Regions from separate parts of the Homo sapiens genome. Here region 2 is linked to region 1. Evidence: fine-mapped expression QTL. A gene starts in region 1. The other region holds a variant in brackets. All regions are shown on one strand. Distances are from middle to middle.

What was found. PIP is the estimated chance that this variant, and not a neighbour inherited with it, causes the effect. A credible set is the group of variants that fine-mapping cannot tell apart.
Region 2: its variant is the best candidate, but not a certain one, in a credible set for the expression of ITPKB-IT1 in whole blood (TOPMed, PIP 0.70).

Annotation. Positions count from the first base shown.
Region 1 is chr1:226,672,387-226,676,776 of GRCh38, forward strand. ITPKB-IT1 (ITPKB intronic transcript 1) reads right to left here and starts at 2,682. Exons shown (of 2, transcript NR_103784.1): 1 at 2,531-2,682. The region is part of intron 2 of ITPKB (inositol-trisphosphate 3-kinase B); the gene reads right to left. RefSeq lists a silencer at 3,664-3,813.
Region 2 is chr1:226,646,370-226,650,759 of GRCh38, forward strand. ITPKB (inositol-trisphosphate 3-kinase B) reads right to left here. Exons shown (of 8, transcript NM_002221.4): 3 at 2,303-2,402; 4 at 798-1,011. Among named protein-coding and RNA genes, the nearest start is that of ITPKB-IT1, 27 kb to the right of the region's middle. RefSeq lists silencers at 90-290, 3,479-3,773 and enhancers at 411-1,302, 3,569-3,658. The variant C/A (reference allele first, on the strand shown) is at 2,120.

The sequences.
Region 1 (4,390 bases):
ATCCAATGTTATCTCTGTAAACCAGGGAGGATTCCTGTCAAACAACTTTGTATCAGCCCACTTCCTTGTTCCTTTTGCCTTTGAAAACCTGCTTGTAACAAAGGCCAAACAGAGCACTCCCCAAGGCAACTTGGAAGTGTGTCCTGGGCAGCTGTCCTCCACCTTGGCTCAGATATTAGGTCGACAAGACCACGGCTGTCTTTCGGTGTGAGGCATATGGCTTCTTCTCACTCCCACTCTAACCTGGAGCTGCAATCCCTGCTGAAAGAATTGCCCTCTAAAGGCCTAAGGATCTCAGCAACAGGGAAGTGGGAGGAATCTTCATGCCAGAGATAAAGAGCTGGTCCATGGGCATGTGTGGGAAGCACTGGGGTAGGGCGAAGAAATCTATCTCCTGGGAGGTGTTATCACTACATAAATCCCAGATTTGATCAGGCAATGTAGCCATCTCACTATTTCAGGCTGCAGCTGCTAAGACAGGTGTGAAGTGGGCAGACAAACAGGAAGAAGGTCCCAGGTGGAGAACCTGCATTTGGCTTCTGTACCCCAATTCCAGTAATTAACAAAGCAAAAACCTGCCACACTGTGAATGATGGCCCTTCCCAACCAGAATCCTGTTTCTGACAAGTGGTGAAGACACTCTAAAATGCACCGAGTGTATGACAAGGACAATCTTCTGGATATTCCCATTTAAACAGGGATGGGCCGGATGCAGTAGCTCATGCCTGTAATCCCAACACTTTGGGAGGCTGAGGCAGGAGGACTGCTTGAGGCCAGGAGTTCAAGACCAGCCTGGGCAACATGGTGAGACCCCTTGTCTCTATAAAAAACACAAAAATTAGCCAGGTGTGGTGGCGCGCACCTGTGGTCCCAGCTACTCGGGAGGCTGAGGCAGGAGGATTGCTTGAACACAGGGGTAGAGGCTGCCATGTTCGTGCCACTGCACTCCAGCCTGGGTGACAGAGCATGACCCTGTCTCAAAAAACAATAAATAAAATAAAACAGGGATGAACTGGAGAAACTGTGAAGGTATAGGTGCTGTCTTGCTTAGGGGTGGGGATGATTTACGGAAGGCTAACACAAGGGCCTTGGTTAGTCTAAAGATAATCACGGCAACTAGGTGGTGGTACCAGGAACTAGTCCACCAAATCCCAACCTGCAGCCAAAAAGTCTCAACTCTCACCTATAAAGGGATCCTTCTAAATTCTCTAGATGTATGGAAATCTTTGACAGGTCTTCTGAAGCCTAGAGTCATCGTATAAACATAGATAAATAGTGTAGATATTGCATAGCTATAGATTGATATGTACATATACCATATACATTAGATATATGCTATATATTTACACTTCTTGGCCTTTCGGCTTTATTATCTATCTCCACAAAGTAGGACAAGACAAGCTTGTTTCCCATTTAAGTTTTTCTATCTGTACTGTTTTGCAAATCCACCAGAGAGTTGCAGGACACTCCTGCTACAGAAAGATTTCTGCCAGGCAGGCTCAGAGACCTGCTCTGTTACTGTTCTATTTAATAACACAAACACACAAATGGGGGCCTTTCTTCCCCATGACTTTCATGGCATGGCTGGGGGCAGAGCTGGGAGGTTTTCACGGCCCATATATCCTCAAACTGCTCCATTTCCCCCCGATCTCAGTTGCCACCCCACTAACTCCGGGGTGATCAGCTCCATACCACAATCATCTCCTGGTGATAGAGTTCCATGGATTTTAAAAGCTGTAAGAAAAACTGAGACAGATTCAGAAGAGATTCTAGTAACCCCAAACCAGCAATTACAAATATTTTTTAAGTATTTATATATACACATTTTTTTTTGAGACAGAGTCTCACTGTTGCCCAGGCTGGAGGGCAGTGGCACCATCTCGGCTCACTGCAACCTCCAACTCCCAGGTTCAAACCAATCTCCTGCCTCAGCCTCCGAGTAGCTGGGATTACAGGCACCTGCCACCACACTTGGCTGATTTTTGTAGTTTTAGTAGAGATGGGGTTTCACCATCTTGGCCAGGCTAGTTTTGAACTCCTGACCTCGTGATCCACCCACCTCAGCCTCCCATAGTGCTGGAATTACAGGCGTGAGCCACTGTGCCTGGCCTAATTTTTGTATTTTTAGTTAGAGACGGGGTTTCACTATGTTGGCCAGGCTGGTCTCGAACTTCTGACCTCAGGTGATCTGCCCGCCTTGGCCTCCCAAAGTGCTGGGATTAAAGGAGTGAGCCACCACACCCAGCCACAAGTTTTAGATACTTAAAATACTTTTAAGTATCTAAAATTAGCACCTCTCTTTAAACCTTTTACTCACCCTTTCCTGACCCTTTCCTTGTATCCCCCATTCCCTTTCGATTTCTTCACCATCCCTATTTGCCTCCTTTTCCTCACTATCTACCCACCAAGTCCTGCTCTGCTCCCATCCCACTTAAGATTTTCGTGTCTATTCTGTATCACCCTTAATGATCCACTGAGGCTGTGAGCTTCCTGTTTACCCACAAGCGTTCAGCGGATCCAGCCATCCTACCAAGGGTTAAAGATGCTGTAGTCCTACTGTGCTGCCTCCGACCCAGTTCCTTCCAAAACAAAGCAGGATGACAAGGTGACTCCACGAGAACTGCGTTTGACCTCTGTGTGGGTTTTCTGTTTCCAAGGCCACAGCAGGGTACTCTGAAAACTCTAAACCAGAAGGAAAGGAGACCTAGCCTTCAGAACTCTGTGTGTATGTGCTTACAGGCAAAAAAAAAAAAAAAAAAAAAAAAAGGAACCAATGAGGTTGTCAGAAGGGGATACTCTGCTGTAACTGGTGTTTACCACGACCCACCGGGTGCTGAGGAGGAAGTGGTTGCTATAACCCCAAGGGGGAAACGCTCGCTTGAAACAGGAAAATAGAACTCTTACAACTTTCCATTAGCAGCGTTCAAGAAGCCGGCCACACTGGGAAACACTTGCACAAGCACTCCCCAGAGTCCTGAGACGAGTGTCAAGACAGTCCAATCACGAAGCACAGATCAGGACACAGATACAGGTCCATGTTTTTTCCAGAACGTCTCAGCACTGGAAAAACTCTCATGATCACTTCCCTTACCTCCAGCAGGCTGAACTTGCAAGGAGCTGTGGGGAGGAGGAAGGAAGGGGAAAATGGCAGGATGACATATTGGAAAGAACGCTGGGCCCAGTGAGGGTCAGAAGACCTGGGCTTTAGTCCCAGTTCTGCGATTTACTAGTGGTGGAACTTTGGGCAAATTACCCAACCTTCCTGCTTCTCGATTTCTACTTCCTCTATAAAACAGGGATATTGTTTACTGCTCTGCTCACATCCTTGGGCTGCTGTGAGAATCCTATGGAATCCTTCATAGGATGAAACTCGTATGTGCTACGCAAATGCTTGTTATCAATGTAAGATTCGAGTCTGCATAAAGCCTTCTTGAGTCCCAGCCTCTTGCTCCTCAAACGCATCCTCTCGGCTACACTTCCACCTGTGCACTTCCTCAACCCACCTTACTTGTAATTCTGCCCACACTTCTGTAGAATTTCTGTAGAAGATCCCATAGTCTGGTCAGAGGAGTATAAGCAAGTCTAAATAACCAAAGTGGGGGGATCTCAACCAAATCATTTGACTCTGGGCTCTGTGCTCCCACATTCTCTCCTCTCCAGAGGTGAAGACTTCATCCTCAATGGCTAATTTGCCTGCTTGGAGGCTCAGATTGGCCCGTGTTCTGAGTCATATTTTCCATTTAGTAAAATGAACATCTGGCTGCTGTATGATGCCTTTTGTGTACCATCACCTAAGCCACAATTACCTGCAAGGTAATTCATACCACTACAGCACGGTGCAAAAACAGGGTTGGTTTGGGATGGTGAAAGTCAGCCATCTTAGTGTCAATCTTGCATGCAAATTCTAATGAAGAAAAGCCACTACCAGCAGGTCCACACACACTCACAAAGAACTCATAAATTATTTTAATCCAAGCGTTCAAAGGGATCCTGGGTCCCAGGAACCATCCTGCTGTTTCATCTCAGTGAGAGGCAAGATGGTTAAGGAAAAACAGCTCTAGTTTCCTCCATCCCCCCAATTCCCCTACCGGTGTGACCTTGACTAGGCCACCCAACCTTCTAAAAACCTTGGCTTCCTCATCTGCAAAATAGGGATAATAACAAGACATGCCCTTCCCGGCTCCCAGGGTTATTATGGCAACCAAGTGAGAAAACAGATGTGAAAGTGCTTTGCAAACCACAAAACACCGTCCAAGTGTGAGGTATTGTTATCTAGCAAAAGTGCCTTGAGAATAACACAGAAATCTGGAAGTATTTTAATTCGTTAATGGACTTATACCACACCTTGACTTAAAAAGGACGTAGGGTAACTGCCTGGAGGAATTCTGAA
Region 2 (4,390 bases), 26 kb before region 1:
AGAAAACCCGGCTGCCTAAAACTGAGCCCCGAGATCACAGCAGCCGGCCTCAGGCATCCCTGTCTGCTCTCTGCCCTGCCTCCTCAAGCCCCCTCTTCCTCTCTCCTCTTCCCTGGAGTCCTCTCCAGGCTTATCCCCTGGGCAGGTGTCAGGGTGAGCCTGAGCCCCTGTCAGGAACCTGGGGGTGGGAGCCAGTCCTGCACACAGGCCCAGTGACTGCTCCGGGCTCACCTGGGGCCCTGCGGTGACCTGCCATGTGGGTTTCTTGAGTTCCGTCAGGGGCTTCCTCCTCCTTTTAGGCAGATACAGGTCTTTTTTGGGAAACCAGCATGTTCTACTAGCCACTCTCTCTTCCCACTCACCAGGGCTGGGGAAATGGAAAGACCTCGATTCCCATCTCCCCTGCAGCTCACACAGCAGGAAGTCACCATCCTGCGACCTCCCTACCTGGTGGCTCCCCGCACCCCCAGCGATCCCACCTGAACCAAGGGCAGCTCTCTCTTCCTTCTCTCTAGGGGGCCTCAGAACCCAGCCGGTGCCCTTTTTCTGGTTCCGCCAGCCCCTGGCTTCTGCTCACTGGAGAAGGAAAGGGGCCATCATGGGCAAAGCCCAGGTCCCGGAACCCTCTGCAAATAATGGGAGATGCCTGGGGATGGGGAGGCTCTAATTGGTCCAACAGCCTCCTCAGCCTGCCCTTGCACCTGTGAGGCCTCCGGGAAGCCCTGAGTGCCACGCTGTGCACCTGCCATGTGGCTTGCACTGAGGCAGGCATGTGGGCTGCGAGAAGCCTGGCTCACCTGATTCCCATCTTGCAGTCCATCACACAGGGCGAGTCGAAGTCGGCCAGCAGGTCGTCCATCTGGTTGTAGCGCTCCCCGTCCTTCACCACATCCCCATGGTAGGCAGGTACGAAGGGCCTCAGCACATCCACCATCAGCCGGTCCAGGCAGCGCTGCTCTGACTCACAGTGCTTCTTCAGGATCCTGCCATTGGCAGCTGCCTTGAAACTCCCTGGAGAGCAAGTGTAGAAGGTTCCTGGTCTCCGGCTGCAGGTAGCTGGCAGAGGCACCCTCCCCAGCACAGGGTCTGGGCCTCCCTGGGGATGGCTAAGCCTGGGGCTGAAGGTGTGTCTATGTCCCTGCTATGGACTGAGCACCTTAAGGGGAGTGGGTTCAAGACCTAGTCCCCACTCACTAACTGTAATTCTGAGCTGGTTCCCCAGCTTCCTTGACTCCAGACTCCTCCTCACCAGTGTTCCCTGCTGGAAGGGTACAGAGCTAGGTGAGAGACTGAGGTGCCACGACCCAGTCATTCCTTAGTGTTGCTATTTTCATCCTCACCTCCATCATCAGCCCTGCTTCTCGGCAACGAAGGTGTCTCCTGGCCTCAGTAGAGAAACCCTGATTGGACAGGATTCAGAGCCAAGGTGGGGAGATACAGCAGGCTGAGAAGCTGGGGGGCCTAAGGCTCAGCCCACCTGGGTGGCACTTCTTCTGAGCCAGACCAAGTAAGTATTCACACAGGCTGTCCATCCATGTGCCTTGAGTTGGGCCAGTGTGGCCAACGAGGTAAGCGAAATGCGGGACCTTGTGCTGGCCTGAGGAGGCTGGTGAAGTCACGAAGGCCAAGTCCACAGGCAGCCCCTGACATGTCTCCAGATGACAGTGCTTCCAGAGGGTCCTACATGTGGGCTAGATGGCTCTGGGGCCTCGGCTCCAGATGTCCCTTCTCCCCGGCACTGCCTGGACTCAGCTCCTAGCCACCTTCCTCCCAACACCGCACACCGCCCTGCAGTTATGGGGTGGCTTGGCCGCATCTTCCACCAGCTGCAGGCTCCCTCAGGGCAGAAACTACATCTCCATTAATGCCGCAACCCCCAGGACCATGGCAATTTAGGCACACAGTAGGTGCTCAATGAAGGGGTTAGCTTTGCCTCTTTGTCCAGGGTGACAAATGGCAGGTAAGCTATAAAGACTGATGGCTTCATCTGTCTTATTGAATACAACGGGAAGAGAGACAGAAAGAAAGAGACTGGAAGAGACAGAGATAAGAGCCAGAGACCGAGGGAGGGGAGGATGCATGTTTTGGAGGATGGGGTAACACAGACTCCAGAGAGGTC[C/A]GTTGTCTATGGCATTTACAAGGCATTGGTAAGGCCGCAGCCTGCAAGTGTGGCTGTGATTTCAGACTAGAAAGTCTTGGAGGGAACTTGCTCTGGAGCTTTGATCCCCAGAATGCAGCGTCCAGGGCACCTCCCCAGAGGGCTGAGCACCATGCTGGGAAAGTCTGGGAGAGCTGTGTCTACCTGCGTGTCCTGCCAGCTGGATCCAGGGGTACTTCTTCTTGAAGGACATGACGAAGGGAGACCAGTGCACCATGTTTTTTATCTTCCTCCATGATTTGCTCTAGAAACAAACAAACAAAAAGCTCTACATTAGAAAGACAACCACTAATTTCTGGTTAGGACAAATTCAAAGCAAAGGCCCTCATTGCCTGTGGCCACAAGATGGGAAGGGCCCTTGACGGGCTCTGAGGACCTTGCCACCACCATCACCTATGCGGCACATGGTGGGAGGTGGCTTTACCCCATTTAACAAACAGCCTGAGCAAAATGCTCAGGGGAACTCCCCTGTCCCAAGAGCAACGACCCCTCCAAGGAAGGCTGGAGAGGACACAACCACCCAGCCGCACCACATTAGTTCATATTCAATTCGTAGATGCGGAGGCACCAGAGGCACCTCTTGCCTGCGAGTGGTTTGAAGAGAGACTTTAAAGAAATTCCTCAGAACAGAACCTGCACCGATGGCTTCAGGTCACACAGGAGGGAGCAAGCCCACAGCTCTCTCCTCTGCACCGCGCTCCGCCCTCTCAGGATGTTTCTTCAGTGAAAACAGCCAGGACTGGGAGTGTGCATGTGTGTGTGCGTGTGTGTGCATGTGTGTGTGCATATGTGTGCATGAGTGTGTGCGTATGTGTGCATATGTGATATATGTGCATGTGTGCATGTGATTGTGTGCATGTGTGCATGAGTGTGTGTGCATGTGTGATATGTGCATGAGTGTGTGCGTATGTGTGCGTGTGTGTGCATGTGTGATATGTGCATGTATGTGCATATGTGTGCATCAGTGTGTGCATGCGTGATATGTGCATGTGTGTGATGTGTGCATGTGTGTGCATGCGTGTGTGATATGCACATATGTGTGCATGAGTGTGTGCGTGTGCATGTGTGTGCGTGCATGTGTGTTTGGGGAGAGCAGGCCCTTTGGGCAGAAAGGAGAACTAAGGTATATTGAGCATCTTATTTTATTTTCTCAATGAGCATGCAAGTCAATTCTTTTCTATTTCCATCTGGTGGAGCCTGAGCCTCAGAGAGGTAAATGACGAAGCTGGGATTTAAACATTCATTTATACAACTACTTGAAAATAAATAAAATTAATAAAATTCTTTTCTTCCCCAGCAAAAACAAACAAAACAAAACAAAAAAACAAAAAAAAAACATATTTTTAGAAAAAATATCCTTAAGTGAACTTTAATAAGAACAGGCTGCAGAGATGAAGATCAAGTGTCCCCAAAATACACCCGTCCTCAGGGGGGCGATGAGAACCTGAATGAGAAGCATTGTGAGTTCCTGAGAAAGTGGATCCTGGACCAGCTAAACCACGGAGAGCAGAAGCCATGTGGCTTGCAGAGGAGATGAGGGTGGTACTGCCTGACAGGGGGACACACTGAAGATGTGGTTCCCACTCCTTGCCCCGAAGCGCCCAGCTGCAGCCCTCAGGGGTCAGCGGCGGCTGCTGGGTCCCCAAGGTGAAGTCAAGGTGAAATCGGCCTCCTTTGTTTTTTCTCTCTTTGCTGAGACTCAGCCGCTTCTGTCATCAGGTTTTCAAGTTAAAATCTATTTAAGGAGAGGAATTCTTCCTTACTAAACCTGGTAATTCTTATCCCCATCCCAGAAACTCTCACCCCACCGCCAAGACCAATTCTATTCTTAAGAGAGGGCAGCGCCCCATGAGGCCATGTGACAAAAGGGCCGAGGCTTTACTGACAAGGATGTTTTTCCTAGATCCTTCTGATGGAGATCGCCAAAGAAGGCTAGAGCCAGCGGAGGCATTTCTTATCTAAGCACCCAGAAGGCTGCATAAACAATCAGGGCACACAATGCATGAGGGCAACAATGGAAAAACCTCATTACACAAGATGAGCCCAGCAGTGGCTCGTGGGGACGCCCCTGCTCAGGGGGAAGCCATTACGGTGGGTCCAGGGGGAGAGTGCACAGCCGGTCACCACCCGTGGGTCACATCCCTGCAGCAGAGCTCAGAGAGGACAGGGGCTGACAGGCTTCAGGGGTGGTGTGGGAGGAGGGGAGCCCAGAGTGTCTCAATCCAGGGCTCG